Homo sapiens: one gene and its partners. The protein of the gene in region 6 interacts with the protein of the main gene of each other region in a biochemical or structural test. Each region holds a gene or a part of one and is shown on either strand. Other genes may lie near its edges. The genes, in order: KCNJ1, CCDC134, PLCB1, ARHGEF7, CACNA1A, DLG4 and SLC15A2.

Region 1 (3,673 bases), on a different chromosome or scaffold from region 6:
AGAACAGAATTGAATTAGGATTTTTCTTGATATATGAGTATCAATAGAAGTACATAGATGATTTAGGTAGTATATTGATGAGTGTTTTATTGGTCAGTTATTCATTTTTCTATATCTCAAAAACATACATAATGCTTCAAGTTTGTGATTTCTCAGAAATTATTGCTTAACATAAGGCTAAACTTATGAGAAGGTGATTTAAGTAATATTCAATAAATAAAAATACAGGTCATAATTGGTTATTACAAACATATTTAAGGTTGTGTGAGACTAATTGAGGTCAGGAAACACTTGAATATATAATCACTTAGTTTGTCTTCATTTCTAGCTCTCTGTAATTATTTTGCCTCTTTATGTTTGAGTAACATGGTCTTCCAGTGGAAAGTTTCTATCAGAAATAGCATTGTGGTATCCAGAATAAACTTGTCAGCTTGCCAAATGATTAGTAACCCAGATAATTTTGAATGATCTTTTCGTAGTTAGGTCTTTCATGTGGGTCACCTAGTTCACTATTGCTATAAACATAATCCTTTTTTGTTTTTCTTTGATGTGTTTTCAGATCAGGGTGTTGACAGAAAGTATGTTCAAACATCTTCGGAAATGGGTCGTCACTCGCTTTTTTGGGCATTCTCGGCAAAGAGCAAGGCTAGTCTCCAAAGATGGAAGGTGCAACATAGAATTTGGCAATGTGGAGGCACAGTCAAGGTTTATATTCTTTGTGGACATCTGGACAACGGTACTTGACCTCAAGTGGAGATACAAAATGACCATTTTCATCACAGCCTTCTTGGGGAGTTGGTTTTTCTTTGGTCTCCTGTGGTATGCAGTAGCGTACATTCACAAAGACCTCCCGGAATTCCATCCTTCTGCCAATCACACTCCCTGTGTGGAGAATATTAATGGCTTGACCTCAGCTTTTCTGTTTTCTCTGGAGACTCAAGTGACCATTGGATATGGATTCAGGTGTGTGACAGAACAGTGTGCCACTGCCATTTTTCTGCTTATCTTTCAGTCTATACTTGGAGTTATAATCAATTCTTTCATGTGTGGGGCCATCTTAGCCAAGATCTCCAGGCCCAAAAAACGTGCCAAGACCATTACGTTCAGCAAGAACGCAGTGATCAGCAAACGGGGAGGGAAGCTTTGCCTCCTAATCCGAGTGGCTAATCTCAGGAAGAGCCTTCTTATTGGCAGTCACATTTATGGAAAGCTTCTGAAGACCACAGTCACTCCTGAAGGAGAGACCATTATTTTGGACCAGATCAATATCAACTTTGTAGTTGACGCTGGGAATGAAAATTTATTCTTCATCTCCCCATTGACAATTTACCATGTCATTGATCACAACAGCCCTTTCTTCCACATGGCAGCGGAGACCCTTCTCCAGCAGGACTTTGAATTAGTGGTGTTTTTAGATGGCACAGTGGAGTCCACCAGTGCTACCTGCCAAGTCCGGACATCCTATGTCCCAGAGGAGGTGCTTTGGGGCTACCGTTTTGCTCCCATAGTATCCAAGACAAAGGAAGGGAAATACCGAGTGGATTTCCATAACTTTAGCAAGACAGTGGAAGTGGAGACCCCTCACTGTGCCATGTGCCTTTATAATGAGAAAGATGTTAGAGCCAGGATGAAGAGAGGCTATGACAACCCCAACTTCATCTTGTCAGAAGTCAATGAAACAGATGACACCAAAATGTAACAGTGGCTTTTCAACGGGAGTAAAGCAAAGTCTCTAAAGCTCCTAGTACCTAGAAGCATTATGAAGCAGTCAACAATTTAGGGGTACGAAAGTAGGATGAGAGCCTTCAAAGTCTACCAGCACAAAGACCCCTGAGCCCCGCAATTGTGATCCCACAAGACATGCATCTCCACAAGGCTACTGTATTAGAACGTGCAATGCATTTATATGAAACTGGTGTATGGAAGACATAGGTGCTCTCTTGAAATCTTAAATATGATTATTTGAGCTCATATAAGGTGGATTGGAGCAGATAAAATTATCAAAAGTTTCATGAACAGGCCAAACAAAATATTTTTTAAAGTTTCCTTAAAGAAGTTATGAACTTTAGAAAGGATCAGGGGACAATAATAATCTCATTTTGATTCTACTGATAAGAATGACTCCACTTTTAATGTGGACTTTTACTCATGGAAAAATTGTCTCCTAATTTGGGGAGATGAACCAACCAATCAATGACAAGAAAACGCTTACACAAAGAACAATTTGAGGCTCTAAGCTTCTCATGTGGTACGTTTAGACAGAGGCTAAATCTGCACACTAGAATCTTGATGATACCTTCCTGCAAGACAGAATGCTTTAGTTAAAAGTGGTGATGATATTTCTTTCAATCTGTATTGGATGGCTTAAAGGGCTATAAATCTGTTTATAAAGAGCATTTCCTGCTCTTCGAAGACAGCAATGAGGAGTTGGAAGGTGCAAAGTCAGTAGAGAAGGGAATGTATCATTAATGCACCTGAGAAGAAACAGTTTCATGTGTTCCTCCACCTAGAGTTTGTACTGGAATGCTATTTCTAAAGAAGAAGTGGGAAAGAGAGAGGAATGGGATGGAGCCCCACAGTCAGAATGTTACTATGTCTTTCTTTCCCTGACAGCCCATCTTCCTAAAAGGGACCAGCTTATGGAAGGCTCGACCTTGAGGGGAAAGTTTTACTGTGAAAGTCTTCTTCAGATCCCCACCTGCATCATTCCGAATGTGTCCTGGAAAAAAACTGGTACTCAAAGCTGCTTAGGAATCAAAATGTTTTCAGTGTGTTGATTAATATAGTAAATTTCTGAAACTGTGCATGCACTTTGATTATTATTATTACTATGCATTAACTGAGTCAGGTTCCAGGTGAAAATCCTCTTGCAGAGAGGACCCTCTCCTGGAAGGGGCGGGAGGAGTGGAGAGGAAGCAGATAGGACACATTTGTTGTCTGGAGTCCTCAGGAGGAAATGACCCTGGCCACAGACACACCCCTTCCGGTACAGCTCCATCACGCCTCTCCAGTGTGAGTCTTGGCACATAAAACGGCAGCTGCCCACAGTTGTTGGGAGGGATGGCTTATGTTTTTCCATGCCTGGGCTGTATTTGTACAGATCCATGCACCACTCTGGTCCTTCTGACTAAGAACAGTGGGAAGTCTGATGGTTTTAGGGTTGCACACCTTGTCAGTGGCCATAACAGTGGCCATAGCTGGCCCATGTGGAACTCTCACTCTGTACCTGTGAGTGCTTTGGCACCACAATTTAATGTGCTGACAGGAAAAAGAAATCAGGTATCACAAGCTTGAGGGAGCTGGAATTCTCTGCTGGCCCACTGTCATGATGTAGCCCCTTCATAAACTGGAGGGAAACTGTGTTGACACTTGTTCCCATCAGCATGCACTCTTCCTGGTGTATTCTCCTGCTGGCTGGCAGCATGCATGTAGATGGCTGGAAGTGAGATGGTCATAAGCAATCCATTCCCTTTGATTGTTTAGGGAGGTGAACAACATACATCTTTCTGATTGGTATTTACTTCTGGGTTATTTGGTGGAGGCCCATCTGCTTCTAAATATCCCTTTGCTAGGATCAAGACACTCTGCACCTGGAGTCTCTTTTTTAATGGAAATTCCCATTGACCCTCTAGCAACCATTAACACAGGTACATCCAATTAAGCCCCTAGGAAA
Region 2 (4,284 bases), on a different chromosome or scaffold from region 6:
TTTGCTGTCATTGCAAACTTCTGGGCCAGCATTATTCTGTCAGGAGTGATACTTCAACAAAAATTTAAAAAGTAATAGGTATAAAGTTTAAAAAGAAAATAGGGCTGGGCACGATAGCTCACCCCTGTAATCCTGGCACTTTGGGAGGCCAAGATGGCCAGATTGCTTGAACCCAGGAGTTCGAGACCAGCCTGGCCAAGATCATGAAACCTCGTCTCTACAAAAAATACAAAAATTAGCCAGGCATGGTGATGCACACCTGTAATCCCAGCTACTCGGGAGGCTGAGGCAGGAGAATCACTTGAACCCGGGAGGCAGAGGTTACAGTGAGCCAAGATGGTGCCACTGCACTCCAGCTCGGGCTACAGAGTGAGACTCTGTCTCCAAAAATAATGTAAAATAAATAAATAGGAAAATAGGAAGTAATAGCAATGTGATAATCTCAGTTTGCATAATAGTTCTGAGAGGCCCACCGTGGTGGCTCACGCCTGTAATCCCAGCACTTTGGGAGGCTGAGACGGGCGGATCACGAGGGCAGGAGATGGAGACCATCCTGGCTAACATGGTGAAACCCCGTCTCTACAAAAAATACAAAAAAAATTACCCGGGCGTGGTGGCGGGCACCTGTAGTCCTAGTTACTCGGGAGGCTGAGGCAGGAAAATGGCGTGAACCTGGAAGGTGGAGCTTTCATTGAGCCGAGATTGCACCACTGCACTCCAGCCTGGACGACAGAGCCAGACTCCTACTCAAAAAAAAAGAAACGAGTAAGAGTCTCAAAATGATATGGAATCTTGTTCCAGTGTCTTCGGAAAAGCTATCTACAGTATGAAACCATCAACTTCTTATCCTGGTTTGCAGTTTGAATGTCTCTGGTTATGGCATTGGGATGTTTGGTGAACTTCCTGTGTGACCCATACATTAGGCACAAGGCTTGTACCTTAAAGTTCATCTAGTTTCAACTTACAGGGCTTCAGGAACAGAGCAGTGCCAATTTTTAATAATTTCATGAAAGAAAGTTAGATTGGAGGAATCTAGAATTCAGGAGCTAGTCCAGTATACAAGTAGATAATGAGAACTCAAAAACAATGCACAGGGCTGCAGTCTAATAACAGATGTACTATAGCTTTTTTTAGAAACAAAATTTTCTCTTTACAGTGATCACATAGGAATAACAGATTTAAAAACCATTTAAGGCTAGGAAGCAAAACCAAGGCAGACTTTAGATTTTACTTAACAGTCTTAAGGTTCCTGGGCCTGCCAGGAAGTGACAGATTTTACTCATTCACTGTAAGGCTGGGAATCTTTGAAGGCAGGCTTTCTATGTACATTCTCAAGTATGATATTCTAGTTAAAGCCCTGGTAATATAAGCAATATTTGTTGTATTCTGTTATAAGAGAGAACAGGCTGGGCACAGTGGCTCACGCCTGTAATCTCAGTACATTGGGAGCCCAAAGTGGGCAGATCGCTTAAGGCCAGGAGTTCGAGACCAGCCTGGCCAACATGGTGAAACGCTGTCTCTACTAAAAATACAAAAATTAGTCAGACATGGTAGTGCTCGCCTGTGATCCCAGTTACTGGGGAGGCTGAGGCGCAAGAATCACTTGAACCTGGGAGGTGGAGGTTGCAAGATCTGAGATCGTGCCACTGCACTCCAGCCTGAGCAACAGAGTGAGACTCTGTCTCAAAATAAAAAAAAAAGAGAGAGAGCAAAGTCTTACTGGACTTTTGCAAATAACCACATTGCCGTAAGAATACTCATGAATAGACCAGCATGGTGGCTCACGCCTGTAATCCTTTCACTGTGGGAGGCCATGGCAGCCTGATCACTTGAACCCAGGAGTTCAAGATCAACCTGGGAAACATGCCCAAACCCCATCTCTACTAAAAAATACAAAAATTAGCTGGGTGTGGTGGTGCATGCCTGTACTCCCAGGCCCTTGGGAGACTGAGGAAGGAGAATTGATTGAGCCTGGGAGGTCAAGGCTACAGTGAGCCATGATTATACCACTGTACTCCAGAGGGAGACCCTGTCTAAAAAATAAAAAATAAAATAAAAAAAAGAATACTTTTCTTGAATAGTTTTCAAATTTTAGATGGGTTAAATAGGGAGAAAAAGTAAATGTTTCCACCTCTCTTTACAAAAGTATTTCTTATGGAATTGCTGTAAACTATAGATAGCTTAAGAGAAAAAGTTTCCTTAAATTTAGAAAACAAAACAAGTAAAGAACCAATAATATTCCAAATATATGTCATAAACACATTACTCTGGCAGGGTGGCTCATGCCTGTAATCTCAGCACTTTGGGAGGCCAAGGCAGGAGGATTGCTTGAGCTCAGGAGTTTGAGACCAGCCTAGGCAATATAGCAAGATCCTACCTCTACAAAAAGATTTTAAAAATTATAATAGCTGGGCATGGTGACATGTGCTGGTAGTCTCAGCTACACAGGATGTTGAGGTAGGAGGCTTGTTTAAGCCCAAGAGGTTGAGGCTGCAGTGAGCCTGGATGACAGAGTGAGACCCTGTCTCAAAAATAAATAAATAAATACAGAAAAGAAAAGAAAATTATCTTCATCAGTTTTTAATTGAGTTCTGTTTGATTTTGATTAGAGATTTCAGGAATTCATCAGTTTCTTCATTAGAGTTCTGAAAATTCTTTATTTAGTCCATAGATCTTAAAGTTTTTAAGTTTTTAGAAACTTGTATTTAAGATTACTTGTTAGAGTCTTCTTATGAATCTGATTGCAAATGCTCTTAGAGAAGAATCAGAACCACAGATGACAAAGACTTGGAACAACCATGGTTGAAAATCTTTTTTTTTTAGGCGACTAATTTTTTTTTTTTTTTTTTTTTTGATTCGCAGTCTCGCTCTGTTGCCCAGGCTGGAGTGCAGTGGTGCGATCTCGGCTCACTGCAACCTCTGCCTCCTGGGTACAAGCGATTCTCCTGCCTCAGCCTCCCAAGTAGCTGAGATTACAGGCACATGCCTCCACGCCCGGCTAATTTTTTTTGTATTTTTAGTAGAGACGGGGTTTCACTGTGTTAGCCAGGATGGTCTTGATCTCCTGACCTTGTGATCCGCCCACCTCGGCCTCCCAAAGTGCTGGGATTACAGGCATGAGCCACCATGCCTGTCCCCATGGTTAAAAATCTAATGGAAGTTCATTATAATCAGCAGTGGACAAGGAAATTTGTCAATTTGTTATTTATGTGTCGCAAGCAATACAGAAGGTTACCAGGGTGTAAAAACAAAAAAATCTTAACCCTTTCATAGCTCAGGTTTTATGAAAAAGTTGTGAATTTCATCAGACACAGGCAGAGTGTGTCCAAGGTTATGAGTTTCCATCATATTATAGTGGAATGTAAACAAGAAAACTAGTACCAGCCAGGCACGGTGGCTCACGACTGTAATCCCAGCACTTTGGGAGGCTGAGGCGGTGGATCACCTAAGGTCAGTAGTTCAAGACCAGCCTGGCCAACATGGCAAAACCCCGTTGCTACTAAAAATACAAAAATTAGCTGTGTGTGGTGGCAGGCAACTGTAATCCCAGCTACTCGGGAGGCTGAGGCAGGGAGAATCGCTTGAACCCAGGAAGCGGAGGTTGCAGTGAGCCGAGATCGTGCCATTGCTCTCCAGACTGGGCAACAGAGCAAGACTCCGTCTCAAAAAAACAAAACAAAACAAAAACTAGTGCCTTCAACTGGGGAATACCTGGCTCTTAGTTAAAAGCATGAGAAATTTCCTGGTTAAATGGAACAATTCAGACACATCAAGAAAAGCCCGAAGTACAGAATCAAGTTATACTAGAGGAAAACATTGTTTTTCTAGGCCCTCAAGACAGAATATTTGAGTGTCAGGCCGTAACAGCAGAGTTAGAACCAGAGAAAAAAGCTATAGTAGCCGGGTGCAGTGACTCACACCTGTATCCCAGTACTTTGGGAGGCCAAGATGGGTGGATCACTTGAGCCCAGGAGTTCAAGACTAGCCTGGGCAATGTAGCAAAACCCACGTCTAAGAAAAATACAAAAAATAGCCGTGCATGGCGGCATGCACCTGTAGTGCCAGCTATTCAGGAGGCTGAGGTGGGAGGATGGCTTGAGCCTGGGAAGTGGAGGCTGCAATGAGCCATGACTGTGCCACTGCACTCCAGCCTGGGCAGCAGAGCAGGACCCTGTCTCAAAAAAAAAAAAAAAAATTACAGGAACTAACAAAAAACATTTAAGAGAATTACCACCCCAGCCAAGTGAAAAGATGCATCCTTTCAAGGGGAGAAAGAGGAAGGGT
Region 3 (4,284 bases), on a different chromosome or scaffold from region 6:
ATTCCCTACTTCCACTCTACTTCTTTGAGTTATAATTAAAATGTATCATTTATCATTTGTACTATCAGATGATATGAGTTAAATGTATATGTTTTTATGGCCGTCCATTTGAGGCATACTAGAATGAATTGATTTACAATACAATTCTGAAAATCCAAACCAGTGATTAACAGAATTCTTGAAGGGTTTTCAGAATGGCTTTCAAAAGGTAATTGCTTTATAAGTGTGTAAATTTTCAAATTAAATAACAAATAATTCACCATTTCATTATTTTCTCAGTGTAAAACACCTGAAAAATGCAGTTATAACTCATATCAAGAACATGTGACCAACCTTTTTGAACACAATAGGTTCTTCTTCCCAGACAGGATTCACAGCATTTCCTTGGGATGTTTTGGTCTTAAATGCCTTCCTCCTTGTATCCACAGGCAAACCAAACATATCTACTTCCACGTAAGTCCCAACTTTCTTATCAGAAAGAAACTGACCTGAAATAATCTAGAAAATCAATAAATCAATCAATCCATAAGGAATTTTGATATGCAAATAACAAAGACATAAGAGAATACTTTAAAGAGCCACAAATGCTCTTCAGCAAATGTTGAATTATAAGCAAAATGGAATAGAAGCAAGAGTAGAAATATGATTTCCCTTTCACTTAATGGGTTATGATATGGTTTGGTTCTATGTCCTCACCCAAATCTCATGTTGAATTGTAATCCTCACATATTTGGGGAGGGTGATTGGATTATGGGAGTGGTTTCTCTCATGCTGTTCTCATGATAGTGAGTTCTCACAAGATCTGATGGTTTAATAAGTGTGTGGCAGTTCCCCCCTCACTCTCTCTCTTCTCCCTTCATGTGAGGTGTGCTTTGCTTCCCCTTCACTTTCCACCATAATTGTAAGTTTCATGAGGCCTCCTCAGCCATGCAGAACTGTGAGTCAATTAAACCTCTTTTCTTTATAAATTGCTCAGTTTCAGGTAGTTCTTTATAGCAGTGTGAAAATGGACAAACACAGGTTGGTAGAAGGATATTGAAAATGGTGAGGTTAGAAGTAGTCAATTAATAAGACACAGTATTGTAGGAGGAATAAATGAACAAGTATTCACTTTAAACCATCAAGATAAGTTTATCATTACCCCTAATCTCACAAGGTGTCACCATCTTTGTCTAGCTACAGAACTAATGGATATTATAGACTTAAAAGAGATTTTTAATATTACGTATTTATAAATGTCTTCCATGTCTGCCTCTGTTTCTATGCAAATTTTCAAAATCTGAACTATCCACCAGCTGTCATAAAGGTTAGCGGAGGCAAACAAGATGTGCTTCTGCTGTATACCAGGAAGGGGAAAGCAGGAAGCAAGTGCTGACAGAGCAAACCTGGTGAATCTGGGTTATGTGGTTACAAGAAAATTGCCTGCTGGTCAAGAACTTTCTGAGCTCCAGATTGTGAAAAGGGGACAGCATTATGGCTGGGCTCACAATCTGAGCTCAAGATTGTGAAAGGGGACAGAATTATGGCTGGGCCAGAAATCAGACAAAATGGTGGCATGAGAATAGCTATCAAAGGCTGAGTAAAGTCAAAGTCAGCTATATGCTGATGTTGTCAGAAATTCTGAGTAATTCAGAGAGAAAGTCATCAGGAAGGCTCTCTGAATTTGCCCTGGGACAACTCATTTCCCCTGTATGTTCTATTTGGCTTGAGTGCATGGGACCTGCTAGCAACAATCTCTTTGTTTAACTTGAGGTTCTATGTGAGAACTATGTCTATGAAATAAGCAAGCATTTCAAAACATGTTTGAAACTTCTAAGTTATGCAAGTCCTACTTGGAATTCAGATGCACAGAAGATGTTGTATGTTTAAGATGTTTGACCAAAGCAGAGTCCTAAACTAAATTCATGACACCAAAACCACAATGCTCTCGTCAGTAACATAGGACGGTAGAACATCATGTGAGCTCACAAGTCCATTCTGGCATTATAAAATCTATGCCAGAAGATGAAAACAAAGGCATAATTGGAAAGTTATGATCTGTATCTTGGCTCTAGCTATAATGTCAAAGGTAGGACTCTACTGCAGTGAGAACTGTCCATTCAGGGGAGACTGACAGCTCTGGAGCAGCGTCTCCATTCTGGACAGGAGCAGCAGGTTACACTTGTCTGGGGATCAACTATTTCCCCTTCACAACTCAATGTACTTTCCTGCCTCTGTGTCATTGTTTTATAATTGCTTACTGTCACAGTAGGATTTTCAAGACAAAAAAAGAAATAAGCAAACAAATACATTCAAAACAAGACGAATCTGCAAGCAAAGCAAAAATATTATTAATTCAACCGAACTATAACAACAATTGACAAGGATTCTAAAAGTAGCATTCTATCAGTACATGGAGCTTATGAGTTTATCTTTATCACACCTGACAGGAATTAAACAGCCTTTTCTGAAAATACTTTCCTAAAATAAACTCTAATTCTGCCAACTTGAACTCTTTATACATGTGGCTTGAAGTAATTTCAAAAGATATAATTATGAGACACTTCACTGAAATTTTATTCTTTAAACCCTTGATATAAAGTGACGAAAGTTTTAAGGTAAAAATGTGCTCAACTGCTTAGGGTAGAAAGAAATTAGTGAAGCTGTTATAGAAAGCTTTTTACATAGTTTTTCAAATGCCTTTGTTTAAGGTTAATCAAAAAATTACATTTATGTCCAGTAAAAAAATTTCTTAGTTCTATAGTTATTCAGTTAAACAGAAAACAGACAATATTTTTGAAAAGCTTTAACGATGAAGAATCCATGTAAAATGTATTCTAAAAAATTGATTTTCCTTTCATAGTATTAAAAATATTTTCTGGTAGCTAAAAAATTATATCTGATATAAAATCAATTTCAAAGACTAAAAAAATTTAGAATTGTTTAGGGTCAGATATACATATGTATGTGTATATATCTATGATTTTTATATATTTATGACATACATGTATATATACATATATATTTAATAAAGCAACTCTTTTATTTAATGATCATTAATATGTGTTTTAAAATCTCTGAATACTCTGGAAGATTTTCAAAAACCATTTAAAGTAATTTGAAAGCTTTTGTTTAACATTTGATAATTTATTGAGGGAATGTTCTGTCTCTAATTTTCTAAGAACCAAACGGGGAAAAAAAGACCGGAAAATCTCTCCAATATGGGCCACTAATTATCATGTAAATTTCATAGTAGGTTAGTTACACCAAAAAAGAGGTTTGCTTATGATGAGTCTCTCCAACTCATTTTATTGATTTAGAGTCAGATTTTTATCATTAAGAATAAAGTTCAGTCGCTTTATCTTATTCATGTGGCCTATGAAAACTTTTTTTTTTTTTTTTTTTTTTTTTGAGACAGAGTCTCGCTCTCTCGCTCTGTCGCCCAGGCTGGAGTGCAGTGGCGCGATCTGGGCTCTCTGCAAGCTCCACCTCCCAGGTTCACGCCATTCTCCTGTCTCAGCCTCTTGAGTAGCTGGCACTACAGGCGCCCGCCACCACGCCCGGCTAATTGTTTTTTTTTGTATTTTTTAGTAGAGACGGGGTTTCACCGTGTTAGCCAGGATGGTCTCGATCTCCTGACCTCGTGATCCACCTGCCTCGGCCTCCCAAAGTGCTGGGATTACAGGCGTGAGTCACTGCGCCCGACCCTACCAAAACTTTTATTATTATTATTATTATTATTATTATTATTATTATTATTATACTTTAAGTTTTAGGGTACATGCGCACAATGTGCAGGTTAGTTACATATGTATACATGTGCCATGCTGGTGTGCTGCACCCATTAACTCGTCATTTAGCATTAGGTGTATCTCCTAATGCTATCCCTCCCCGCTCCCCCCACCCCACAACAGTCCCCAGAGTGTGATGTTCCCCTTCCCGTGTGCATTCATAGATGGGAATTGAACAATGAGAACACACGGACCCCTTACGAAAACTTTTAATGTGTATTTGATCTTTAGAGAAAAAAAATGTAGGAAGAAAGTAGAATCTTTCCTAGTTACTAAATTTTTAATGACTAAGCCACTTCTTTATGCAATGTAGATAAATTCAACACTATTGTTAGGAACAATTTTGTGATGGGGTATACCTACCTTAACAGACAAAGTGTTTGCCACTATCCCATCTACGATGCCTTCAGTAAATGGATCAAAATGCTTGTCAGGCCTCCTCATGAACTCTGGCTTCAATCTGTAGCCACTCTTCCCGTTGTATTCATACATCCCCATATTTATTTGCATAGCC
Region 4 (4,284 bases), on a different chromosome or scaffold from region 6:
TAGAAAGCGTTGAGATGTAAGTGGCCTTCTCAGAAGGTCTTACGTGCTTAGGAAGTGGAAGGCTGGTTTCCTAATGACTGTTTGGTTTTCAGCATGGTGTTTGAATCGGTTTCATTGGAGGACATTCTCCCTGGCTGCCCTGGCAGGGGATCCACATGGAATAAGGAGGGTGAGAAGCGGGAAGGGCTGGCACCACCCTGGCTCTCAGTCCTCCTTATGGGAAGCTGTGTTTAGGTTGAACTCTCTGAAACTGTTAATGTTCACTATTTGTGGACTCAGTTTCCTCTGGGTTAGCCAAAACACTGTCTGTCTTTTCCCCGGGAGCCCTTGATGGTTCTGGTGTCCCCGAGACCTCTGGCAGTAGCCAGCTTGGCTGGGGTGGTGCGGTGGGAGGCTCCTGTGAGACCAGAACCGGAAATTGGCTTGTTTCTCAGTTTTGCTGTTAGGATTTTCATGTTTATTTTAGGACATCGTTTACATAATGAGGATATAAAAGTATCTTTTCCTTTTAAGGGAAAACCTCTAGACTAGGAAAATTTGTTCCTAGGATTTGTGCCATGGGTATCATTTGAACCAAGCTCTGCTGACTAGAGACCCCTATCTTCTAGGATGGGGCGTGGTGATGGGGCGGGGGTCACCTGGGTCTCCTGGATGGGATGTGGTGACTGAGAAGTCATCCTGGTCTGGACCTGGCATCGGCTGCCAGCGCTGGTGCTGCCTCCCCTCCTTTCTGTGGGCTGTACACTGTCAGATGTGTGGACTGATGGCACATGCAATTTGAGGGACAGCAGACCCAGGGCCTGACAGAGACCTCAGAGATCGCCAGTGAAGGGGTGTTGCGGTCAGGTGACTGTCAGCCTTAACAAACGTGTGGGTGAAGAGCTGGACCCCCCACAGAAGCCTGCCCGTGTCCTCTGCCACAGCCATGGGAACTCTGAGGACAAAGATGACACACATGAGGACCCACTGTAGGGAAAGATAGGCGAGGCACTGTGAAGGGGATGGTTGAAGAGGAATACAGAAAGTTCTAAAACTTGTTTCTGACTCTTTAATTTTGGGATATGCACTGTTTCTATGTCCATACACAGGGACACCTTCCTTCCTTACGTGTTGTGAGGATTGAATGTAACAATGCTTTTGAAGTTCTAAAGCGTAAATCAACATTCGCTGTCTGCACACAGGGACCCCTTTCTTCCTCACGTATTGTGAGGATTAAACTTAAAGCTTTTGAAGTTCTGAAGCCTAAATCAGCGTTTGCTCTCTTCTCTTGCTGCTTCTCGTGCTCCTCACCCCAAGAGCCATTGCCTACTCCCAGGCTGAGTGCTGGCAGCACATAGGTGGGGCCTGCTCGCTGGACGAACTCGCATCTGGGGATGACTACCATCAGTGTGCTCTAGCTCTTTACCGGAGCAGCTCGGTCCTTGTTCTACCACCTTGAGACTCTGAGATTATTGGAATCCATTCTGGCTCTGAGTGTGCATGTTTCCATTGGATATGTCTGCATGGCACTGATGTGCTGGAGGACCTCGCCATCAGTAGGATCTCATGGAGACCCACATGTCCTGTGCTGTGTATAGTTATTGTTGCTCATATGAGAGCAGGAACGGGACCCCTTAGGGATGGGAGTCCCCTTTGGCATTTCCAGATAAGCAGCGCAGATTTGGGATAAAAGCTGGAGCCTTCCAGATGTTAAAAGCAACACTTATGTTTCATAAATTCTGGCTGTTGCTCATGGAGATGAGAGAGCCACCATTGTCTCTCATTGCTAACCACGAGTGTCTCTCTTGCCACTTGCTGCCCAGTGAGGAGTTGGGGGAGTTCATGGAGACCAAAGGTGCCAGCAGCCCTGGGATTCTCGTGCTGACCACGGGCCTGAGCAAACCCTTCATGCGCCTGGATAAATACCCTACGCTGCTCAAAGAGCTCGAGAGACACATGGAGGTACTGCGCTTTCATTCTCTTACTTGGAGTCCTTACCAAGGGTTAGTGGCATGGTCAGACTTACTGTGAAAGAAAGTATTATTCATGATTTATTTTAGAAGCCAGAACCAACAGAGTTTACAAAGAGTTTTGTTAAATATTATGTTTTTCTCCTTATTCCAGCTCTATTAGAAAACATTTACCCCTTATCTCTCTTTTACCCACTGCTGCTGATTGAAAAGTTTCCAAAAGCTGAAACATGAGAACTGATTTTCAGATAGTGTTGAGATGTCTTACCTGGATCATCCAGCTACAAACAATGTGTGCATAGGTTATAGGGTAATACTGTACTAATCATTTGATGAATGATTGTGCTCTTTTAATTTTGAATAACAGGTTGCAGCCTAGCAGAAATTTGGGTTGAAGTTACTCTCTTGGCTTGAGTTGGCAAACCTTTTCTATAAGGGGGCAGACTGTAGGGTCTTCTTCACGGCTACACAGCTCTGCCATTTTAGATACTGTATGTGAGCCGTGGCAGTGTTCCAATAAGACTTTATTGATGAAGCAAGTGTTGGCTTCCCCACCCCTGCTGCTTGTGACTGTTCTCTTCCAACTTATATTTCCCCAAAGTCTAATGGCTTCGTGATTTGCTGAAAGACTGACACTTTAATGCTGAGGGAAAAAGGGAATGTTAAGGGTTGAAAAGTGTTAGAAAAGTTTCAAGCTGGTCTGTAGAAAGTACCTTTTTAAGAAAAGCTTTTCCTTATGAAAGCTAATTGTATGTTTCTTTTACTCAAAGGATTATCATACAGATAGACAAGATATTCAAAAATCCATGGCTGCCTTCAAAAACCTTTCAGTAAGTGATTAAGCATATTGTTTTCCCCCCCAGACATTATTGTGACAAATGAATGTAAAAGAATTATCAACTGAAAAAGTCAAATGATTAAAAAATGACTTGTGCTGACATGAAAGAAAAACAGAGTCGGCATTCTGTGGCTGGTAAACTCCTTTTAGTGGACTATGATAGAATAATTATTTAAATTTTTTAAAGTCACTGTGTAATTGATGTTAGATCTACTTTAAAATTGTTTAAAACATTTTTTTACCCTTCATTCATGTTGTCTTTAATGATTTATTGCAAAACAGAACAATGGTGGTTCCATTTTCTCTGCTGTTGTGTTGTCTTACCAACTGCGTTTTGGAAATATATGGCCTTATTTTATAGCACAAGTTATACTTTCTGTTTCTTCTTTTCAGTCTTCCATATTGGCAAACACGAACAAAACCAGAATGAAAATACAGTTCTTGTCCTGTCCACATTTCTTTTTTGTACAAGTGGCAAAATGTGCTCTATCTTTCTAAAATAATACTTAGTATTCCAGAGCAGTTGTGTGTGTTGCTTCTCTTAACTTGGTTTCATACTTCTAAGCAAATACTTTCAATTCCCTATAATTAAGCAAATCGCTCAATAAATTATCTGTCTGAAGAAGTAAGATATAAAGCAATAATTGTCTTAAGGATGATACAAAGCAATGTGGCCGGAACTTAACATTCTGAAAGTTTATGTCTGTTAACAGTGTTGTTCTGTGTCTGTCAGGCCCAATGTCAAGAAGTCCGGAAGAGGAAAGAGCTTGAGCTGCAGATCCTGACGGAAGCCATCCGGAACTGGGAGGGCGATGACATTAAAACTCTGGGCAACGTCACTTACATGTCCCAGGTCCTGATTCAGTGTGCCGGAAGTGAGGTACTGCTGCCCACATGCACGCACCAGGGTTTCTGTCCCACTCTTAGGAGCTCATAGCAGAAGATTTTAAAGGCATCTCAAGCGATGAAAAATGTCTAATAGAAGCTCTATCTTATAATTTGTGAGCTACTTTTTATTCTTGACACAGGAGAGAGGCTTATGGCATGTTAGAGAGGCTTAGAGCTGAGTGTGGACTTGTTGATCAGTTTGATCCAGCTGAAGTCAGTGTGGCCCGAAGCCCACGTGAACTGAAGGATAGATAGTGTGCAGAAAGACTTGCAGGAGTCCTGTGCACACATCCGCATGGAGCTGTATGCGCTTATCTGGCCAGCAACTTTGTACCAAGGCTCACTCTCACAGGGACCTGCTGCTCTCAATGCTTTCGGGTCATTATACTTTCCTGTGAAAGTATGCTAGCTGACATATGCTTACAGGAGTCACAGTTTTCTTACAGGTTTGGTTTAAGTGAGAGATCAACCCAGATTTTTGGGACATACCCACCCACACAGTGAAAATCGAGCAGTTTGTTTCATGATTCACATTGACATACATTCAATGGGTCACTGAACAGGCACCTCTTTCTGAATTTTATTCTACCTTTGCAAAAATAACATGAT
Region 5 (4,284 bases), on a different chromosome or scaffold from region 6:
TATTCACTCATACACCAATCCATCCAGTCATCCATCCAGTCATCCATTCACCCATCCATTTGTCCACCCACCCATCGAGTCATCTACCAATCTACTTATCCACCCACCTACCCTCCAATCACCCATCCTTCCTTCCTTCCTTCATCCCATCCATCCATCCATCCACTCATCCATGCATCTGTTCAACCATCCATCCATCCATCCATCCATCCATCCATCCATCCATCCATCCACCCAGACATCCAACACTAACTGCAGAGGATGCCTCCATCCCCTCTAAACCACAAACATCCAGCTATGATCCATAACTTAAAAGACTGCGTTGTGATCAGAAACAGGCCACAAGTCAAAAATTTGCATTCTGACAACTCTTTCAAAGACAACTCAAGTCTCTAAACATTTCTGACCATTCCAATTTGTGTAAGACCCAAACACTCCATGTCCTTGTAAGGCCCTCAGAGAAGCTAACCTATATTTGGTGCTCTGAAGTATTTGATGTCTTCAAAGACGGTGCCCTTAGGGAGAAGGTAAGACTAGAGACAGTATAGTTAGAGGAAGGGGAAGCTGTGGGGAGATTGGAGAGTCTGGCAATGGGGCATAACAAATGAGAGAAAAAGATTAGAAACATGGAAGAAGGATTGCTGAGACGTGGGGAAAATCCTACTTGGGCCTAGGAATCATGGAATTCTAGTATGGACAATCAATGAGACCTTGTGATTGTGTTCTCCTTGGCTTATATATTGGAGCAACAGTGATTCAGCTGATCATTCAGAAGAATGGGTTAACAACACAGACGCCAAAAATAACAGAGATCAAGGGAGTTGAGAGACTTGGCAAGAAAGAGCAGAATATTAACACTTATGCAGCACCTACTGTGTGCCACACACTATTCTCAGCAGTGGATCAGAGAAGCCCAAATATGGCCACCCACATAAGTCCATCCATCTATCCACTCTTCCATGTATAAACACATATAGTGCTTCCTAAGTGTCAGGCACCACTCTAAACATCAGATGTATTAACTCATTTAATCCTCCCAGATAGGAGCTATTAGGATCCCCATGGAGCTATTAGAATCACCACTGGGACAGACTGGGAAACTGAAGCACAGAACACTTAAGTGACTTGCCCAAGATCACGCAGCCAGTGACTAGTAGAGCTGGGATTTGAACCCCAGCCACCTAGCTCCAGAATCCATGCTCTCAACTCAACCATGCTGCTTCTCTACAACCATATCAATTGCCAGTGTCTAAACCACAGGTTCTGACTCTCAGAATACAAGCAGGACCAAGAGCTAACCGGTTGACCCAGCCTCTTAGAGAAAATGATGAGTAAGCTGTGAAATGTCTTAGCTCCTGCCATAAATGCTGATGAATCTCAGCTGATTCTAGGTGAAGCTAGATTTCCAAGTACACAGACTAAAATTAACACCTCGAATTCATTCATTCAAAATTATTGATTCCTTACAGCAGCATTGTTCATAACAGCAAACAAACAAACAATCCCCCACCCCAAACTAGAAACATCCCAAATGCCCATCGTCCTGCTTGAACCCGGGAGGCGGAGGTTGCAGTGAGCCGAGATCGCGCCATTGCACTCCAGCCTGGGCAACAAGAATGAAACTCCATCTCAAAAAAAAAAAAAAAAAAAAAAAAAAAAAAAAAATATATATATATATATATATATATATATATATATATATATATATATATATATATATATAAATTTATGTTGTTAAAGCTGGGTACGGTGGTGCATGCCTATAGTCCCAGCTTCTCGGGAGGCTAAGGCAGGAGGATCGCTTGAGCCTAGGAGGTCGAGGCTATAGTGAGCCATGATCATGCCACTGCACTCCAGCCTGGGTGACAGAGTGAGACTCTGACTCAAAATAAATAAAATAAAATTCATTGAGTTGGCTACTTCACAGGATGATTATATATGCCATGTGCTTTCTGGGTACAGTATCTTTTAACCTTCTTACAATTCCTCGGACATAGGACTACTGTCCCCGTTTTACAGAGGAGAAGACTGAGGCTCCACAACTGTGAGCTGGAGCTGAGATTTGCAGCCAGGGTGGACTGTTCCCAAGCTCTATATGTCTCCCCTCCATCCAATATCACCTTCCCTCCTCTTTTCCTCCTTACAGCCTCCACTGCTTGTGCTGTTAATCAAACAGACACATTCCTATGCAGACGCCACAACATGCCACGAACACATTTCACTGCAGTGATGGTCAGCATAGCCCTCCCACCCACACACACCATGCCCATCATTCTCAATAAAGAAGATAATAAAGATCATGGAGATAAAAGAACGTGACAGACTCTGGAAGATCAGAATCCATGTAACACCACTGCGGGCCAAGTTTTAAGTCTGCCCCAGAGTCTCATTGAAGACAAATCCATCCACTTTTACAAAAAGGTAACATCCAGACTTCGCCCTCCTGCAAATGCTGTTCGTATGAAAATACTTTAAAAATCAGTTTAAAATTACATATATTTTTTACACATAGGCCTAAAATGAGAACAGAACTTAACAGCATGAATATTATTTACTGGCAAGTGGGTGACTAAGTTGGGTTTCCCTCATGGCTTCAGAGAGGGGACTCTTGAATCCTGTTATTTGGGGGCTGGGGGTGGGAGGCTGCTAATTTCTAACTGCAGGTGCCGCCTGAGCAACAGGCACCTTTAAGGAAGACTCACGGCTGCTCCCAGTCTGAACGGCAGATAAAGCCGTGTCTGACCGAAGCGAGATGTCAAAACTTGATCCGGACTTAACTCAGGCATTTCCCTTCATAGCTGGAATCTCTCTTGTATTAGCTGCCTTAAAGACGGCTTCTAAAAGCTGCATTCATTCCAATAAAAAGTCTTGGCTTTTCAGAGGGAATAAGTAACTGACTCTCCCCCTTTCTTGGTCAACGGCACCATCTCTTGCACCATTCTTCTCTCTCAGGTGTTAAGAACTCACCATTAGGGTGACCAGCGTCCCAGTTTGCCCAGGACTGTGAGTTTCCAGAGATGCTAAACCCAGGATAGTCCCAGGCAACCCTGGCTGAAGGGTCACCCTACTCAGATAAGAACTGAGGCCCAGTGGTTTTTGAAACCTAAGTTGCTGTGCCCACTCATGGTTCCCTCGCCAGGAATGTTCCTTGTTTTTCCTATTTTTTTAGGGAGTGAGGAGAAAGAAGACCAAAGTTTGGAAGGGGAGGGGGGTACCTAAATTCTAAACCAAAAGTTGAGCAAAGTTTTTCTGTGGAGTTTGCAGTGGACACCTGGGGTGGCCATCCTGGGCTGCACTCTCGACCGGCCCCAAAGGAAGAGACAGGGAGTGCAAAAGGGGAAGAGGGAAGCTAATTATATACTTTAAAACTCCCTCACCTTGTCACCCACAGAGAGAGGGAGGGACCAAAGGAGGAAAGAGAATTAATTTTTACCTTAGACTCAAGGGAATAGAAAAATGGGTCAAGTGGCCACGAATTTTTTTTCCCCTGAAAGCTTCCAGAGAGAACGGAGAATGCAAAATGTCCAAAGGTGGCTTTAAAGAGCGCCACGATCAGGTTAATCAATCCACACTGACCAGTCGCAGGGGGTGGTGGGGGGGGGCACTTCGCTCCCATTCCCACCCAGAAAGCCTCTTTTCTGGCCGGTTTCCAAAAAAAGAACACTGGAACCTAAATGACTCCATAGTATTACGGCTCTGGCGTTTTGGGGTTTTTCTCTGTGCTGGAGACTGTGCTGGCCATTTTTCACGCACGACCCCATTTAATCTCCTGAGAGCCCTCCAAGGGAGATGCTACTAGAAGGAATATCCTCATCATGCATGTCAAGAAATAGGCTCTGGTGCCCAAGATAACATGGCTGGTGAATAATGTGAACCTGGGCCAGTCTGACCCAGAGTCCGGAGTGTTTTCCCTCTCCTCTCTGCCCTCTTTCAGAGCAGGCACCATCCCATCCGGCCCTTTTCTCAGGAGCTGAGCTGGCATTCTCGGAAATGCGTTACTGCACGGCTCTTAGGCTCTGATCATTTCTGGATGGAGTCCACCTTCCCGGCGGTGCTTTTTATTGCTGAGAAAGTGTATATGTGTGCTTGCTACTGGGGGGGAAACAGGGAGGGGGAAGCATAAGCCCTACGCACCCAACAGATGCCTCCCACTCCAAGTCCCTGAAGAAAGACTTCATTCTCAAGGGGCCGCTGCATCCAATCTACTCAAGCACTAACATTTCAGAAACTTTCATTGGTCTGATAATCTCATGGACAGTCTCTCAACCCCCTGCAACTAAAACC
Region 6 (4,284 bases):
GCAGCAAGTGCTGGGGCCAAGGCAGGGGCCAGGGCTCACCTTCCATCTGCGTCACTGTCTCGTAGCTCAGAACCGAGTCTTCTCGACCTGGTGGGAGGTGGGGCATCTGCAAGGGGCTCTGAAACAGGGGACCTGGAGCCCTGTCTCCCCCTTGAGGATATCAAAAGCAACTCAGTGCTCCTCTCACCCACATCTTCCCGAACTAACCCTACCTACCCTGCGATCCAGAGCTGGAGCCCCAGTCCTAAGAAGAAAAAGCAGGCCACGGGGTTAGTTATGAGCTCAGCTCCATGAGCCCTCACACTTCCACCCAGGCTCACACCCTCCTCCACCTACCTTGGCCTTTAACCTTGACCACTCTCGTCGCTCAACCCTGTGGGATACATGGAGGGATACGCGGGTAGGGGAATGCCTACCCCCTGCCACCCCCATGCTCTGAGCCAGCTGACAACCCCTTCTCCATACTCTGGGCCAGCTGACACCCCTTCTCCTGCAGCCCTGGACACTGTGCTCCTCAATAAGGAGTTGTCCTTCCCAAAGGCTCATGGGAGCCACGGACCCCAGGAGGGCCCAACAGACAAACCCCTAGGAGTTCAGAGGGCAAACCCATCCCCTGTTGGCTGCCCACCCCGGGGGACCTTGGGAACTTCAGTGCCTGTGGCAGGAAGGCTACAGAGCCCAGGAGCCTCACCGCCGTTTGCTGGGGATGAACCCAATGTCGTCGGTCTCACTGTCAGAGTGGACCCGCCGTGCCTGCCACCACTCCTCATCACTAGCATCGATGACATGCAGCACATCCCCAAAGCGGAAGCTCAGGGCCTGGCTCAGGAAGCCGCAGTCCTTGGTCTTGTCGTAATCAAACAGGGCCCTGGAGGGCAAGTGGCTATCGGTCAGAGCCCAGCTGAGGACTCCAGGAAGGATGCCCCAGTCACCCAAAGACCCGGCCCAGAGGTCTGCAGATGGCACTCCCATGGGAGCTATGGATGCCGAGGAACCCAAAACTGTGTGGGGACCAAACGCTGACTATAACTCATAACAACTATTAGCCATCACTCAGTCCACACTGAGCACAGTTTCCAGAGGCAGGGCTTGAACTTGACCCTCTCAAGAAAGCAGTTTGGGCCAGGCGTGGTGGCTCCCACCTGGAATCCCAGCTGACTTTGGGAGGCCAAGGCGGGCGGATCACAAGGTCAGGAGATTGAGACCATGGTGAAACCCCGTCTCTACTAAAAATACAAAATATTAGCCGGGCACGGTGGCGGGTGCCTGTATTCCCAGCTTCTCGGGAGGCTGAGGCAGGAAAATGGCATGAACCCAGGAGGCGGAGCTTGCAGTGAGCAGAGATCACGCCACTGCACTCCAGCCTGGGCAACGGAGCGAGACACCGTCTCAAAAAAAAAAAAAAAGAAAAAGAAAAAGAAAAACAGAAAGCAGTGTGCAGTACACACGCACATCATAAAGTCACAGGGGTAACCCTGAATCTGCCCAAATTCATAAGAAAAAGAAAATGTCCCGTGTTTCCAAATAATGGTTACCCTTACCAGTATCAAATTTCTATCAGTAAGTCACAACCCCTGGGGTCAGAACCAGGGAAGTAATGAAGACACAGAAGAAAGCAATGGGCCTGGAGAGGAGGGAGGAGACCCCGGGCCCCCTGGAAGTGTGACAACCAGATGACATTCCGCCTGGGAGCCACTACACAACCTCTGTGGTCACTGGGAGTCAGAACAACCTTGGGGACCAACCGGACCCGAGCAGGGAGGAAGGGCAGAGCAAGGGCTCAGGTGGGAGCCAGTGTCTGGGTGGCTGGTGATGCCATCCAACAAGAGGGAAACTGCTGGCACAGCAAGATGGAACCCAGGCCCACAGCAGGATGATGAGCTCAGCGTGGGACATGTTGAGTGTGGGACGCCTGTGGGACATCCCAGTGGAGATGGCCAGAAAGCCAATGGCCAGAAGTGCAGGTCTTGACCTCTGGAAATAGGTCAGCCAGGGCCAGCACCTCCGAGAGACATCTGCAGAGCGCAGCGGCAGACGAGGCCATGCAAGCCACAGGGCCAGACAGGGACAGAAGTGGAGGGGTGACCCCCGGGGGCGGGAGAGAGGTGTGTTTTGGCAGAAACCTAAGCCACAAAAAGAGTCAATGGAGACGAGCCCTAAGAGGGGAGCAAAATGCCGCTGGAGAGACGGGGGCAGGCACCACAGAGCTGCGGCCCACGTCTCCGGGACTGCCCACAGGGACGTGAAGGCTGGGGCAACACTCCAAATACCCTAGAGGACCCTGCTTCACCAAGCATTAACCTTCGAGACGCCAAATTGTGGGGTGGCCTGGGAGTCCCGGGGAAGTGCTGGGATGACCAGGGGCTAGAAGGCAATTGGGATACTTGGGGCAGAGGCTATTTTCCCATCGACAGGGAGTATTTCAAATGTTAACCTGTGCAGCCAAGCCCATGAACCCTGGCTGCGCCTCAGGCCTGGGGTGGGGAGCTAGAGCAGGCAGGGTGGAGAAGAGGAGCGGCTGAGGCCCGGGCCAGGCACAGAGTGCCCAGGAACGCAGAGGGGCTGAGGAGTCCAGCCCGGGAAGCCTCTGACCTGATGTAGAAACCCCTTTTGGGGTTGCTCCGCAGGGACGCAGTCCCTGAGCCCAGGCTGCTGTTCATGAGCTGTTCCCGAAGGTCGTGGATCTTGGCCTCGAATCGGCTGTACTCTGAGGAAGGACAGGGAGGTTTCTGAGCTCTGTCCCCATCCTACTGTCACCCCTGTCCTCCCCTACTGAAGCCATCAGCTGAGGAAGAGTTCTAAGGGCCATTTCAGCTCACAAGACAAGGAACTTCCGGCCTGGTACCTTCTGGTTTATACTGAGCGATGATCGTGACCGTCTGACCCGCATTCTTCAGGGCAATGGCAGCCTGCTCATGGCTGGCATTTCGGAGGTCCACACCGTTGACCTAGAGAGAGGACGACAGGCTGTGTCACCAGAGACAGGAGGCAGCACTTCTGGGTCCAGGTGGAGCAGGGAGTGGTCCCGCAAGAGGACTCGGCTGCAGCCCATCCAGGCCCCTCCCCAAGAGCTCTGCGCTCTGCCCTGTGGGGAGGGGGTGGTGCAGGTAGGGGCAGGCCTTCCCTCACCGACAGGATCTGGTCCCCCTTCCGCAGCTCCCCACTGAGGTCTGCAGGGCCCCCGGCCAGGATAAAGGAGATGAAGATGCCTTCACCGTCCTCGCCACCCACGATGTTGAAGCCCAGGCCCGTGGAGCCCCGGTGGATCACAATTCGCCTCGGTTCTCGGGGAATGTCTTCCTCCCCGAGCAGGTCCTTGGCCACTGGAGAGTAGCGCCGAGGGGAAGTGGGGGTCATGGCTGTGGGGTAGTCGGTGCCCAGGTAGCTGCTGTGACTGATCTCATTGTCCAGGTGCTGGGAATAAGCTGAGGAAGACAGGGCAGAGATGAAAGTGCCTGGAGGGAAACAGCACCCGCCACCCAACCTTCTCCCCAGGGTGCCAGAAGAGCCAAAGTTAGGTGGAAGGGAAGATATTCTGCCAGAGATGCCAGGGTGGGGTGGTAAGGGGATATCAGATCACAGTGACATCAGGGGTCAGGAATTTATAGGTGACATCAGAGGCTGGTTGTCCTAGGGGATAAAGGATTTGAACGTTATATGTCCTCAGTATGCCAGGGATGGGGAAGTCAAAGGGAGCATTAATATTACGCTTTGGGGGTTTTCTCTGGGTTCCTGTGTCACTCGAATCTCTTAATCCATAAAATTCTTCTCCCTCTTTTTTCCCCCCACCTCTCTGCCATCCATTCGTTGAAAAAACTAGGTCATTTGTCTAAAAGAATTTCCCACATTCTATGAGGGAAATTCTTTTGTTTTTTTGGGGTTTTTTTGAGAAGGAGTCTCAGGCTGGAGTGCAGTGCCGTGATCTTGGCTCACTGCAGCCTCTGCCTCCCAGGTTCAAGTGATTCTCATGCCTCAGCCTCCCAAGTAGCTGGGATTACAGGCGCGCGCCACCATGCCCAGCTAATTTTTGTATTTTTAGTAGAGACAGTGTTTCACCATGTTGTCCAGGCTGGTCTGGAACTTCTGAACTCAAATGATCCACCCGCTTATGCCTCCCAAAGTGCTGGGATTACAGGCATGAGCCACCTTGACCAGCCTATGAGGGAAATTCTAACAGGGAAATTACTGCTTACCCTCCTGTGGTTTGTTTAGCCTATGCCTCTGCCCCTGTATCTCCTGTAAACTGGCAGTTCATTCTGGAGGCTTGATCAGTTTCAAGTTCAA
Region 7 (4,284 bases), on a different chromosome or scaffold from region 6:
GAAAAAGAGAGAATCCTGCCTAACTCATTTGATGAGGCCAGCATCATCCTGATATGAAAGCCTGGCAGAGACAACAAAGAAAGAGAATTTTAGACCAGTATCCCTGGTGAACACCAATGTGAAAATCCTCAATAAAATACTGGCAAACCGAATCCAGCAGCACATCAGAAAGGTTATCCACCATGATCAAGTCGGCTTCATCCCTGGGATGCAAGGCTGGTTCAACATATGCCAATCAATAAACGTAATCCGGCATATAAACACAATCAACAACAAAAACCACATGATTATCTCAATAGATGCAGAAAAGGCCTTCGACAAAAATCAACAGCCCTTCATGCTAAAAACTCTCAATAAACTAGGTATTGATGGAACGTATCTCAAAATAATAAGAGCTATCTATGACAAACCCACAGCCAATATCATACTGAATGGGCAAGAACTGGAAGCATTCCCTTTGAAAACTGGTACAAGACAGGGATGCCCTCTCTCACCACTTCTATTCAACATAGTGTTGGAAGTTCTGGCCAGGGCAATTAGGCAGGAGAAGGAAATAAAGGGTATTCAATTAGGAAAAGAGGAAGTCAAAATGTCCCTGTTTGCAGATGACATGATTGTATATCTAGAAAACCCCACTGTCTCAGCCCAAAATCTCCTTAAGCTGATAAGCAACTTCAGCAAAGTCTCAGGATACAAAATCAATGTACAAAAATCACAAGCATTCTTATACACCAATAACAGACAAACAGAGAGCCAAATCATGAGTGAACTTCCATCCACAATTGCTACAAAGAGAAAAAAATACCTAGGAATCCAACTTACAAGGGATGTGAAGGACCTCTTCAAGGAGAACTACAAACCATTGCTCAATGAAATAAAAGAGGATACAAACAAATGGAAGAACATTCCATGCTCATGGATAGGAAGAGTCAATATCGTGAAAATGGCCATACTGCCCAAGGTAATTTATAGATTCAATGCTATCCCCATCAAGCTACCAATGACTTTCTTCAGAGAATTGCAAAAAACTACTTTAAAGTTCATATGGACGCAAAAATAGCCCACATTGCCAAGACAATCCTAAGCCAAAAGAACAAAGCTGGAGGCATCAGGCTACCTGACTTCAAACTATACTACAAGGCGACAGTAACCAAAACAGCATGGTACTGGTACCAAAACACATATATAGACCAATGGAACAGAACAGAGGCCTCAGAAATAACACCACACATCTACAACCATCTGATCTTTGACAAACCTGACAAAAACAAGCAATGGGGAAAGGATTCCCTATTTAATAAATGGTGCTAGGAAAACTGGCTAGCCATATGTAGAAAGCTGAAACTGGATCCCTTCCTTACACCTTATACAAAAATTAATTCAAGATGGATTAAAGACTTACATGTTAGACCTAAAACCATAAAAACCCTAGAAGAAAACCTAGACATTACCATTCAGGACATAGGCATGGGCAAGGACTTCATGTCTAAAACACCAAAAGCAATGGCAACCAAAGCCAAAATTGACAAATGGGATCTAATTAAATTAAAGAGCTTCTGCACAGCAAAAGCAACTACCATCAGAGTGAACAGGCAACCTACAGAGTGGGAGAAAATTTTTGCAATCTACCCATCTGACAAAGGGCTAATATCTAGAATCTACAAAGAACTTAAACAAATTTACAAGAAAAAAACAACACCATCAAAAAGTGGGCAAAGGATATGAACAGACACTTTTCAAAAGAAGACATTTATGCAGCCAACAGACACATGAAAAAATGCTCATCATCACTGGCCATCAAAGAAATGCAAATCAAAACCACAATGAGATACCATCTCACACCAGTTAGAATGGCAATCATTAAAAAGGCAGGAGACAGCAGATGCTGGAGAGGATGTGGAGAAATAGGAACACTTTTACACTGGTTGGTGGGACTGTAAACTTGTTCAACCATTTCAACCATTGTGGAAGACAGGGATCTAGAACTAGAAATGCCATTTGACCCAGCCATCCCATTACTGGGTATATACCCAAAGGATTATAAATCATGCTACTATAAAGACACATGCATACATATGTTTACTGCAGCACTATTCACAATAGCAAAAACTTGCAACCAAGCCAAATGTCCATCAATGATAGACTGGATTAAGAAAATGTGGCACATATACACCATGGAATACTATGCAACCATAAAAAAGGATGAGTTCATGTCCTTTGCAGGGACATGGATGAAGCTGGAAACCATCATTCTGAGGAAACTATCACAAGGACAGAAAACCAAACACCACATGTTCTCACTCATAGGTGGGAATTGAACAATGAGAACACTTGGACACCAGGCGGGGAACGTCACACATGGGGGCCTGTCATGGGGTGGAGGGCTGGTGGAGGGATAGCATTAGGAGAAATACCTAATGTAAATGGCGAGTTCATGGGTGCAACAAACCAACATGGCACATGTATACCTATGTAACAAACCTGCACGTTGTGCACGTGTACCCTAGAACTTAAAGTATAATAAAAAATAAAAATTAAAATTAAATTAAAATAAAAAAATAATAAACACGTTTAAGAGAGTGGTTCTAAGTGATTGCCCAGGTCAAAAATCAAAACTGATGAGCCTGGGTAATAGGATATAAAATCTAGGAACTATGACTAAAAATGTTTTCCTTTCTTAAAACCAACTTGACACTACAAATAGCATCCTTGAGAAACCAATATGCATGTTTAATAATTTTTGTTTTCCCACTGCGTACCTATTGATTAGTCTTTCCTGTATGTAGCTCTGAAGGAAGCCTCACTTCTTTCCTGGCATAGGGAGTTCCTTAAACAAGAGTCAGGGACTCTGGATGCCCATTTCCTCTTAACATATCTATTATTCTGGGATAGCAAACAGAGGAAAGATTTTTAATAGAAGTTGTTTACTAACTTCAGGAAATTGCCCCTTCAGGGTTTGAACAATCTTTCTAATGTTAGAGAAGGCTTTTCACCCTCAAAGTAACACGTGAATAAAAGTAAACACACCACACACACACACACACACACAAACACATACTCAGGCAGAGAAACATATGAGAGGTGGGGAAGAACTTAACGGTTTGAAACAAAAATCTATCCATTTTCCTCTAGCAAATGAAGAAAATAGGCTACAGGTTCAAATTAGAAAAGACAGTAAAGGAAGAGTCTTGTCTTTTTTCTGATTTTCCAACTTAAGGAAGGGTAGTTTTAAATACTTATTCCCTTTTGTTGCTGTTATCATCTGTTTGTATATGTTACACACACATGCACACGCACACACACACAAACATGACTACAGGAGAACAAGTTACCCACATTTTCTCAAACTACTCCCTTTGTGAAAGAGATACAAATCACCCCCAAGTTTTCTTATTTAAAAAGCAACCAAAATACCCACAATAAAATAAAAGTAACCTTCATGCCTGTCTACATCTATCTGCAGTCATGTGGCTACATTTGAGGGTCTGAGGGTGAATAAATTTATGAATTCGAAGATTTACTGTGGGCCTATCTGCTAGGCACTATTCTACGTGCTCTTGGATAAAAATATAAATCACAGCCGGGCACAGTGGCTCACACTTGTAATCCCAGCAGTTTGGGAGACAGAGGTGGGTGGACCACTTGAGGTCGAGTTCGAGACCAGCCTGGCCAACATGGTGAAATCTCATCTCTACTAAAAATACAAAAATTAGCCGGGCATGGTGGTACATGCATATAATCCCAGATACTCAGGAGGCTGAGGCAGGAGAATCGCTTGGACCTGGGAGGCAGAGGTTGCAGTGAGCCGAGATTGCATCACTGCACTCCAGCCTGGGTGACAGAGCGAGACTTTGCCTCAACGACAAAAAATATGTATATTATATATATACTTATATATTATACATATTATATACATTCATATAATATATAAATGACTGGGGTGGGTGGGGAAAAATATATATAAATGACTTTGTCCTCTAAGTGTTTGAAAGAAGATATCAGATTCATATATAAATAATTAAATAACTATAATAAGATAGAGTTTAGTAAATGTCATATAAGGGTGAGAAAACAAAGAACTCAGAAAACACTATATTACTTCCAGCTATAGTAAAAGGTGAGGGGGCAGAGAATACTCCATAGCATAGGTGGTATTTGAGTGAGCCTTACGGGGTTTGGACATGAAAGGGTGGGGAAGAAGGGGTTTCCATGAAGCAGAAACAATGCAAACAGACATGAAAAAGAGATGTCATTGGATATGATTACAGAAATATTAGTATTACA

What was found.
Region 1: the proteins of DLG4 (region 6) and KCNJ1 interact in a test that uses a peptide from one of them, tested with the Homo sapiens proteins (one large-scale study listed by IntAct).
Region 2: the proteins of DLG4 (region 6) and CCDC134 interact in a test that uses a peptide from one of them, tested with the Homo sapiens proteins (one large-scale study listed by IntAct).
Region 3: the proteins of DLG4 (region 6) and PLCB1 interact in a test that uses a peptide from one of them, tested with the Homo sapiens proteins (one large-scale study listed by IntAct).
Region 4: the proteins of DLG4 (region 6) and ARHGEF7 interact in a test that uses a peptide from one of them, tested with the Homo sapiens proteins (one large-scale study listed by IntAct).
Region 5: the proteins of DLG4 (region 6) and CACNA1A interact in a test that uses a peptide from one of them, tested with the Homo sapiens proteins (one large-scale study listed by IntAct).
Region 7: the proteins of DLG4 (region 6) and SLC15A2 interact in a test that uses a peptide from one of them, tested with the Homo sapiens proteins (one large-scale study listed by IntAct).

What each region holds. Positions count from the first base shown.
Region 1 is NC_000011.10:128,837,151-128,840,823, reverse strand, and holds the end of KCNJ1 (ATP-sensitive inward rectifier potassium channel 1), read left to right. Parts: intron 1-559; coding exon of another isoform or gene 560-580; coding exon 581-1,699; 3' UTR 1,700-2,804; downstream 2,805-3,673. UniProt on the Homo sapiens protein: Inward rectifier potassium channels are characterized by a greater tendency to allow potassium to flow into the cell rather than out of it.
Region 2 is NC_000022.11:41,803,384-41,807,667, forward strand, and holds part of CCDC134 (coiled-coil domain-containing protein 134 isoform 1 precursor), read left to right. Parts: intron 1-4,284. UniProt on the Homo sapiens protein: Molecular adapter required to prevent protein hyperglycosylation of HSP90B1: during translation, associates with nascent HSP90B1 and the STT3A catalytic component of the OST-A complex and tethers them to a specialized translocon that forms a microenvironment for HSP90B1 folding.
Region 3 is NC_000020.11:8,733,242-8,737,525, reverse strand, and holds part of PLCB1 (1-phosphatidylinositol 4,5-bisphosphate phosphodiesterase beta-1), read right to left. Parts: coding exon 4,134-4,284; intron 499-4,133; coding exon 334-498; intron 1-333.
Region 4 is NC_000013.11:111,272,012-111,276,295, forward strand, and holds part of ARHGEF7 (rho guanine nucleotide exchange factor 7), read left to right. Parts: intron 1-1,802; coding exon 1,803-1,941; intron 1,942-2,719; coding exon 2,720-2,779; intron 2,780-3,520; coding exon 3,521-3,667; intron 3,668-4,284. UniProt on the Homo sapiens protein: Acts as a RAC1 guanine nucleotide exchange factor (GEF) and can induce membrane ruffling. Functions in cell migration, attachment and cell spreading. Promotes targeting of RAC1 to focal adhesions. May function as a positive regulator of apoptosis.
Region 5 is NC_000019.10:13,495,858-13,500,141, forward strand, and holds part of CACNA1A (voltage-dependent P/Q-type calcium channel subunit alpha-1A), read right to left. Parts: intron 1-4,284.
Region 6 is NC_000017.11:7,193,628-7,197,911, forward strand, and holds part of DLG4 (disks large homolog 4), read right to left. Parts: intron 3,426-4,284; coding exon 3,130-3,425; intron 2,949-3,129; coding exon 2,846-2,948; intron 2,708-2,845; coding exon 2,593-2,707; intron 869-2,592; coding exon 692-868; intron 374-691; coding exon 337-373; intron 245-336; coding exon 217-244; intron 88-216; coding exon 40-87; intron 1-39. UniProt on the Homo sapiens protein: Postsynaptic scaffolding protein that plays a critical role in synaptogenesis and synaptic plasticity by providing a platform for the postsynaptic clustering of crucial synaptic proteins.
Region 7 is NC_000003.12:121,900,611-121,904,894, reverse strand, and holds part of SLC15A2 (solute carrier family 15 member 2), read right to left. Parts: intron 1-4,284. UniProt on the Homo sapiens protein: Proton-coupled amino-acid transporter that transports oligopeptides of 2 to 4 amino acids with a preference for dipeptides. Transports neutral and anionic dipeptides with a proton to peptide stoichiometry of 2:1 or 3:1.